Linked DNA regions of Homo sapiens. The protein of the gene in region 1 purifies or fractionates together with the protein of each later gene. This does not show direct contact. Each region holds a gene or a part of one and is shown on either strand. Other genes may lie near its edges.

What was found. Proteins that work in one complex are often made in the same cells at the same time.
Region 2: the proteins of ECE2 (region 1) and KCNIP4 purify together in Homo sapiens (affinity purification with mass spectrometry; 2 studies listed by BioGRID and IntAct, with this or other methods). This does not show direct contact.

The regions. Positions count from the first base shown.
Region 1 is NC_000003.12:184,274,517-184,278,267, forward strand, and holds the start of ECE2 (endothelin-converting enzyme 2), read left to right. Parts: upstream 1-1,505; 5' UTR 1,506-1,637; coding exon 1,638-1,676; intron 1,677-1,964; coding exon 1,965-2,051; coding exon of another isoform or gene 2,052-2,189; intron 2,190-2,375; coding exon 2,376-2,511; intron 2,512-2,734; coding exon 2,735-2,950; intron 2,951-3,408; coding exon 3,409-3,533; intron 3,534-3,650; coding exon 3,651-3,751. Other genes in the region: EEF1AKMT4-ECE2 readthrough transcript protein, read left to right, coding at 2,376-2,511, 2,735-2,950, 3,409-3,533, 3,651-3,751. UniProt on the Homo sapiens protein: Converts big endothelin-1 to endothelin-1. Also involved in the processing of various neuroendocrine peptides, including neurotensin, angiotensin I, substance P, proenkephalin-derived peptides, and prodynorphin-derived peptides.
Region 2 is NC_000004.12:20,850,200-20,853,850, forward strand, and holds part of KCNIP4 (Kv channel-interacting protein 4), read right to left. Parts: intron 469-3,651; coding exon 344-468; intron 1-343.

The DNA of each region.
Region 1 (3,751 bases):
CCTCCCAAGTAGCTGGGATTATAGGCGCCCGCCACCATGCCTGGTTAATTTTTGTATTTTTGGTAGAGACGGGGTTTCACCATGTTGGCCAGGCTGGTCTCGAACTCCTGACCTCGTGATCCACCCGCCTCGGCCTCCCAAAGTGCTGGAATTACAGGCGTGAGCCACTGCACCCGGCTGACACCCTTCTTGAGAGAAAGATGAAAGAAAGAAAGAAAGAAAGAAAGAAAGAAAGAAAGAAAGAAAGAAAGAAAGAAAGAAAGAAAGAAAGAGAGAAAGGAAAGAAAAGAAAGAAAGAAAGGAAAGAAGAGAGAGAGAGAAAGAAAGAGAGAGAGAGAAAGAAAGAAAGAGAGAAAGAAAGAAATGGATTATGTGTTTGCTACCCACTCAAGCCTTCTCAGGTCAAATTCTTGTACTTTCTCAGTGGGGGTGGAGGATGGGGAGAGGAAGATGAAGCGCACTCTCTTTTCCTTTTTTTTTTTTTTTTGAATTGTAAAACACTAGGCACTTTTCAGTGCAACAGACTGCAATAACACCAGGCCTGATTAAGGAATGACAATATGGAAGGCAGATGGCAGATGCATGGGTGCCACACTATTGCTTTTCAGTTAAATATTGCTTGGTGTTAGTTTTTTTTCTCCTTGTAAATCTCCCAAATAAAACGGTTTGCTTTCCCCAAGTTAGAAGTGTTAGCACGTCTTTTCTTTAAATATCTGTGCATGGCTGTTTTTTTCCCTGCCAATTTGTCACCATCTGTAACCCTCCCTTTATGAGACGATCTGATGACAGCAGTTATCTTGGAGAGTAGAAGTGTGGTCTTGAAGCGCCATGGAAGAGTAGAGTCAGTGTAGGCTGTGTGTGTGTGGAGTGTATGCTCCCCCTGCACTTGGTGTGTGTACATACAGAAACACAGTGTGCGTGTGTGTTGGCTCTGGGTGTGTTGTGCGTGTGTACACTGTGTGTGAGTATGCAGTGTGTGTACATTCTGTGGGCATCTCGTGTGTGTGTGGACTGTGTGCTGGGCGTCGTGCCTGCCCGTGTCCTTGGCGCCTTGGCGTCTATGCGTTCTCTGCACATAGGTAGGTACCACGTGCACACCCTGAATGTGAGTGAACTGCCTGTGTGCTATGTATTTGCCGGCTGAAGAGGGGCTGTGTGGACTACTGGGGGAAGACGTTCCTCAGGAGGGCATAATTTCTCTAAAGTGCTTAAAGGGGATGGAGAGAGCCTGAAATTTGGGGGAAGTAGGCCAAGGAGTATTAGCAACGTCTGGGCCTGGTTGAATTTCATTACTTTTCCTAGGAAAGTAAATTATGGGTGGCTTGAAGGAGGGTGCTGCTGAGATGGGGGGCGGACCATGAAGCGTGGAGGGGTCTCCGGTGTTGCTGGAGGGCAGCTGGAGCCTGCGGAGAGCCTCGGCGCGCTCCTCCCTCTCCCCCACCCTCCCCCCACCCCGGGCGGGGCTCCGCGTGGGGCGGTGGACTCGGGCGGGGGGGGGGGCGGCCGCGGCCGAGCGGGGGTGCTGCGCGGCGGCCGTGATGGCTGGTGACGGCGGGGCCGGGCAGGGGACCGGGGCCGCGGCCCGGGAGCGGGCCAGCTGCCGGGAGCCCTGAATCACCGCCTGGCCCGACTCCACCATGAACGTCGCGCTGCAGGAGCTGGGAGCTGGCAGCAACGTGAGTGGGGGCCCCGGGCTCCACGGGAGGGGACTGGGTGGAGGGGGACGAGGCAGAGGGGTCGGCCGCGGAGGGGCAGGCGGTGCCCGGCTCGCGGAGGTAAGGCTGCCTCCCGGGCCTGGTGGAGGGGTGATAGAGAGACCCCGGGCCCGAGAGCAGGGCAGGTGGGAAGGGAAGGGCCCTCTTAGCAGGGCGGAGGGGTCCGCGAGGCAGGGAGCACTGGGGCAGGGTCGTGGGCAAATAGCCCTCTCTGCCTGACCTCGGTTGGCAACCCCGACTGTCTGGCAGATGGTGGAGTACAAACGGGCCACGCTTCGGGATGAAGACGCACCCGAGACCCCCGTAGAGGGCGGGGCCTCCCCGGACGCCATGGAGGTGGGCAAGGGGGCTTCCCCTTTCTCACCAGGCCCCAGCCCTGGCATGACGCCTGGCACACCCAGGAGCTCTGGGCTGTTCTGGAGGGTCACCTGCCCCCACCTCCGCTCCATCTCTGGCCTCTGCTCTAGGACTATGGTGAGGCGATGCTAAGCCGTGACGTTGCACAAAACAGACTCAAGGCTCAACTCACTGGCTGGCCTCATTGCCCCCGGGCCCAGAGTTAACCCTGTGGCTCTGAAAACTGCCTGTGGCTTCACCCTCTGGTAATCTTGGATCCCTGCCCTGCATCTCAGTCACTCTCTGTCCCCCTGTGTTCCCCAGGTGGGATTCCAGAAGGGGACAAGACAGCTGTTAGGCTCACGCACGCAGCTGGAGCTGGTCTTAGCAGGTGCCTCTCTACTGCTGGCTGCACTGCTTCTGGGCTGCCTTGTGGCCCTAGGGGTCCAGTACCACAGAGGTAGGTGGGCCCACACTCTTCGTCAGTATTCATAACTAGGGGTTCTGGAGGCCTAAGGGCCTCTAAGATTTTCACTTGTGGGAACCAAGCCTTCCCTGCAGAAAAGCCCCCGGCTTTGCTTTCTCTTCCCAACCTTCCTGCTGTCATGGCCCTTGCAGAGTTTGCCTCTTCCAGACAGACAGACTGACAGTCTCCTACCCTCCGGCCATGTTCCCTACCACAGACCCATCCCACAGCACCTGCCTTACAGAGGCCTGCATTCGAGTGGCTGGAAAAATCCTGGAGTCCCTGGACCGAGGGGTGAGCCCCTGTGAGGACTTTTACCAGTTCTCCTGTGGGGGCTGGATTCGGAGGAACCCCCTGCCCGATGGGCGTTCTCGCTGGAACACCTTCAACAGCCTCTGGGACCAAAACCAGGCCATACTGAAGCACCTGCTTGGTGAGTGGGGCTGTTAGGGAGGCCTTGGGCCACCTATGTGCCTTGTGCCCAGCACAGGGCCTGGCACTTAGCAAATAGGCAGTGTCCATGAATGAGGAAGTGGATGGTTCTGTGAACACTCCAGAGGGTGGGGAGGCAGAGAGCAGGGGACTATTGAGAAGTGCAGATGGGTTTGATGGGGGCAGAACTCTGGGTACAATGGAGGGCCGCTTCTCTGCACTCTGTTTGGAGCACTGTCGTGGTGTGGTAGACACCAGGGAGCCTGTACTGCTTAGATATCCTTGGGTCTCCATGGACAGGGAGAGGAAGCCACGGCTTGCTGTTTCAGACACTCTTCCTGGGTCTGCGTTAGCAGGACTGCTCATTGACAAGGCAAGGAGAGAAACCGAGCAAGGGCCAGGGACTCCCCCTCAGCAGTTAACGTAATTGCCACCTGGATCCTGTGTTCTGCCCCACAGAAAACACCACCTTCAACTCCAGCAGTGAAGCTGAGCAGAAGACACAGCGCTTCTACCTATCTTGCCTACAGGTGGAGCGCATTGAGGAGCTGGGAGCCCAGCCACTGAGAGACCTCATTGAGAAGGTAGGGCCACTGAGCCGGTTGAGGGCAGGGGAGCAGGAGAGGCCTTGAGAGAGGAGATGGCCCAGGAACGCTTTGGGAGCTCCTGCACTAATCATTCCACTTATGGTCTCTACATAGATTGGTGGTTGGAACATTACGGGGCCCTGGGACCAGGACAACTTTATGGAGGTGTTGAAGGCAGTAGCAGGGACCTACAGGGCCACCCCATTCTTCACCGT
Region 2 (3,651 bases), on another chromosome or scaffold:
AGTCAAGCACCAGCCTGTATTTAAAAACTAAGGAAACAATGGAAGTTTAATGAAATTATGTCATTATAGTTGATGAAGAGAAAATATTTCAACCAAGAACTGAATTGAATAAAACTTTCTCAGAAACTCTTTGTTTAATGGGCAATCACAGTATGCCAGCATGGGTGTGCCACAGAGAATCAAAGTCCACAGATACTGATTATATTCCTATCTGGGAAGGATCAGTATGAAATATACATATGATGGGGCTCTCATAGAATGGGATATTTTCCCCCTTTTCCTCTCATTTCTCAATGCTCCTCTGGGAATTGTGTGAAGGTAAAGTCAAAAAGAAAGTTCTTACATTCTTAAATCCTCTGTAAAGGATCTGAAGCTCTTTCTTGGTAAATTTGCTCTGGGCTTCCAGAAGCTCAAGGGCTTCAGGCCGATGCCTGACGGTGGCCATCTCCAGTTCATCTTCCACGCTGTCTGTGGAGGAAAACAAGAAAGAGTCTTAGGACCAGCCACTGCTCACCGATGCTTACACAGAGCAACAAAGGAAAACGGAAGAACATGTCTGCTAATGTCTGTGACTGTCCACAGAGGAAGGACCCTCACAATGCCTATAAGGCCTTTACATTTCCCAGTTTAAGCGTATTAAGCTAAAACACTTGTATATGATTTTTTTGCATATTCTTGTCATTAATGTAGATATTACAACCCTAGCATTGTTTTAAGACAACAAAAAAGAGCACAGGAATTTATTTCAGATAATCAGTGGATTATATGATTACGTCAAACAAAAAGTTTAAGTAGCAATATATATTACTCTATAAATCTAACAGTAACATATATTTCTTTTTTCCCCAACGTTTAAGTTCAGAGGTACATGTGCAGGATGTGCAGGTTTGTTACATGGGTAAACATGTGCCATGGTGGTTTGCTGCACAGATCATCCCATCGCCCAGGTATGAAGCCCAGCATCCATTAGCTGTTCTTCCTGATCCTCTCCCTCCCCCAACAGGTGCCCAGCATGTGTTGTTCCCTGGCAGTGTCCATGTGTTCTCATCAATCAGCTCCCACTTACAAGTGAGAACATGCAGTGTTTGGTTTTCTGTTCCTGCATTAGTTTGCTGTAGAGAATGGCTTCCAACTCCATCTATGTGCCTGCAAATAAAATGATCTCTGTCCTTTTTATGGCTGCATAGTATTCCATGGTGTATATGTACCACATTTTCTTTATCCAGTCTATCATTGGTGGGCGGTTAGGTTGATTCTGTGACTTTCCTATTGTGAATAGTGCTGCAATGAACATATGCAGGCATGTATCTTTATAATAGAATGAATTATATTCCTTTGGGTATATACCCGGTAATGAGATTGCTGGGTCAAATGGTATTTCTGCCTCTAGGTCTTTGAGGAATCACCACACTACCTTCCACAATGGTTGAACTAATTCACACTCCCACCAACAGTGTAAAAGTTTCCCTTTTTCTCTACAACCTCACCAGCATCTCTAGCATTTTTAAGGTATAGTTAGAAAAACATAGAAGATCACAAATAGTCCAACCTGGAATTTGTTTCTATATAACAACCACTAGTTATAAACAATGGAATTGTCATTTAATAATAATCAGTTTTGTGCCCTATGTAAAATGCAACTACAAGATAGCCTCTGATAATGTTCACTAAGGATTCCAATGAAATCAGATATTTTGCACAGCTACTTGGGAGGCGGAGGTGGGAGGACTGCTTGAGCCCAGGAGGCTGAGGCTGCAGTGAGCAGTGATGGCACCACTGCAGTCCAGTTTGGGTGACAGCATGAGACCCTGTCTCAAACAAACAATCAAACAAACAAAAAAAATAGAACCTTAGACTCTCAGAATGGAAGGACATCTGAAGAAAGATATAAGGAGATAGAGAAAGAAGGAAACCTCCCTAATTCATTCTATGAAGCATCACCCTAATAACAAAACCAGCAAATGACATAACCAAAAGAGAACACTACAGACTGATATCCTTGATGAACATAGATGTTAAAATCCTTAACAAAATACTCACTAGCTGAATCCAACAACATATCAAAAAGATAATCCACCATGATCAAGTGGGTTTCAAACCAGGAATGCAGGGATGGTTTAACATACGCAAGTCAATAAATGTGATATACCACATAAACAGAATTAAAAACAAAAATCACACGATCATCTCAGTAGATGCTGAAAACCATTCAACAAAATCCAACATTCCTTTATGATTAAAACTCTCAGCAAAATTGGCATACAAGGCACATACCTTAATGTAATAAAAGCCATCTATGACACACCCACAGCCAACATAATATTGAGTGGGGAAAAGTTGAAAGCATTCCCTCTGAGAATGGAAACAAGATAAGGATGCCCACTCTCACCACTCCTCTTCAACATAGTATTAGAAATCCTAGCCAGAGCAATCAGACAAGAGAAAGAAAACAAGGGCATCCAAATTGGTAAAGAGGAAGTCAAACTGTCATTGTTTGTTGATGACATGATTGTTTACCTTGAAAACCCTAAGGACTTCTCCAGAAAGCTCCTAGAACTGATAAAAGAATTCAGTGAAGTTTCTGGACAGAAAATTAATGTACAAAAATCAGTAGCTCTTCTATACACTAACAGTGACCAAACAGAGAATCAAATCAAGAACTCAACCCCTTTACAATAGCTGCAAAAATATAAAATACTTAGGAATATACCTAACAAAGGAGTCAAAAGACCTCTACAAGGAAAACTACAAAACACTGTTGAAAGAAACCATAAGTGACACAAACAAATGGAAACACATCCCATGCTGGGTAGAATCATGGATGGGTAGAATCAATATTGTGAAAATGACCATACTGCCAAAAGCAATCTACAAATTCAACATAATCCCCACAGAATACCATGATTATTCTTCACAGAATTAGAGAAAACAATTCTAAAATTCATGTGGAACCAAAAAAGAGCCCGCATGGCCTCATAGAAAAAGCAAGACTAAGCAAAAAGAACAAATCTGGAGGCATCATACTACCTGATTTCAAATTATACTATAAAGCCATAGTCACCAAAACAGCGTGGTACTGGTATGAAAATTGGCACATAGACCAGTGGAACAGAATAGATAATTTGGAAATAAACCCAAATACTTACAGCCAACTGATCTTTGACAAAGCAAACAAAAACACAGAGTGGGGGAAAGGACACCCTTTTCAACAAATGGTGCTGGGATAATTGGCTAGCCTCATGTAGGAGAATGAAACTGGGTCCTCTTCTCTCACCTTATACAAAAATCAACTCAAGATGGATTAAGGACTTAAATCTAAGACCAGATACTGTAAAAATTCTAGAAGATAACATTGGAAAAACCCTTTTAGACACTGGCTTAGGCAAGGATCTCATGACCAAGAACCCAAAAGCAAAAGCAAAAGCAATAAAAACAAAGATAAATAGCTGGGACCTCATTAAACTAAAGAGCTTTTGCATGGCAAAAGGAACAGTCAGCAGAGTAAACAGACAACCCACAGAGTGGGAGAAAATCTTCATAATCTATACATCTGACAAAGGATTAATATCCAGAAAGTACAACGAACTCAAATGAGTAAGAAAAAAACCAACAATCCCATCAAAAAGTAAGCTAAAGACATGAATGGACAAT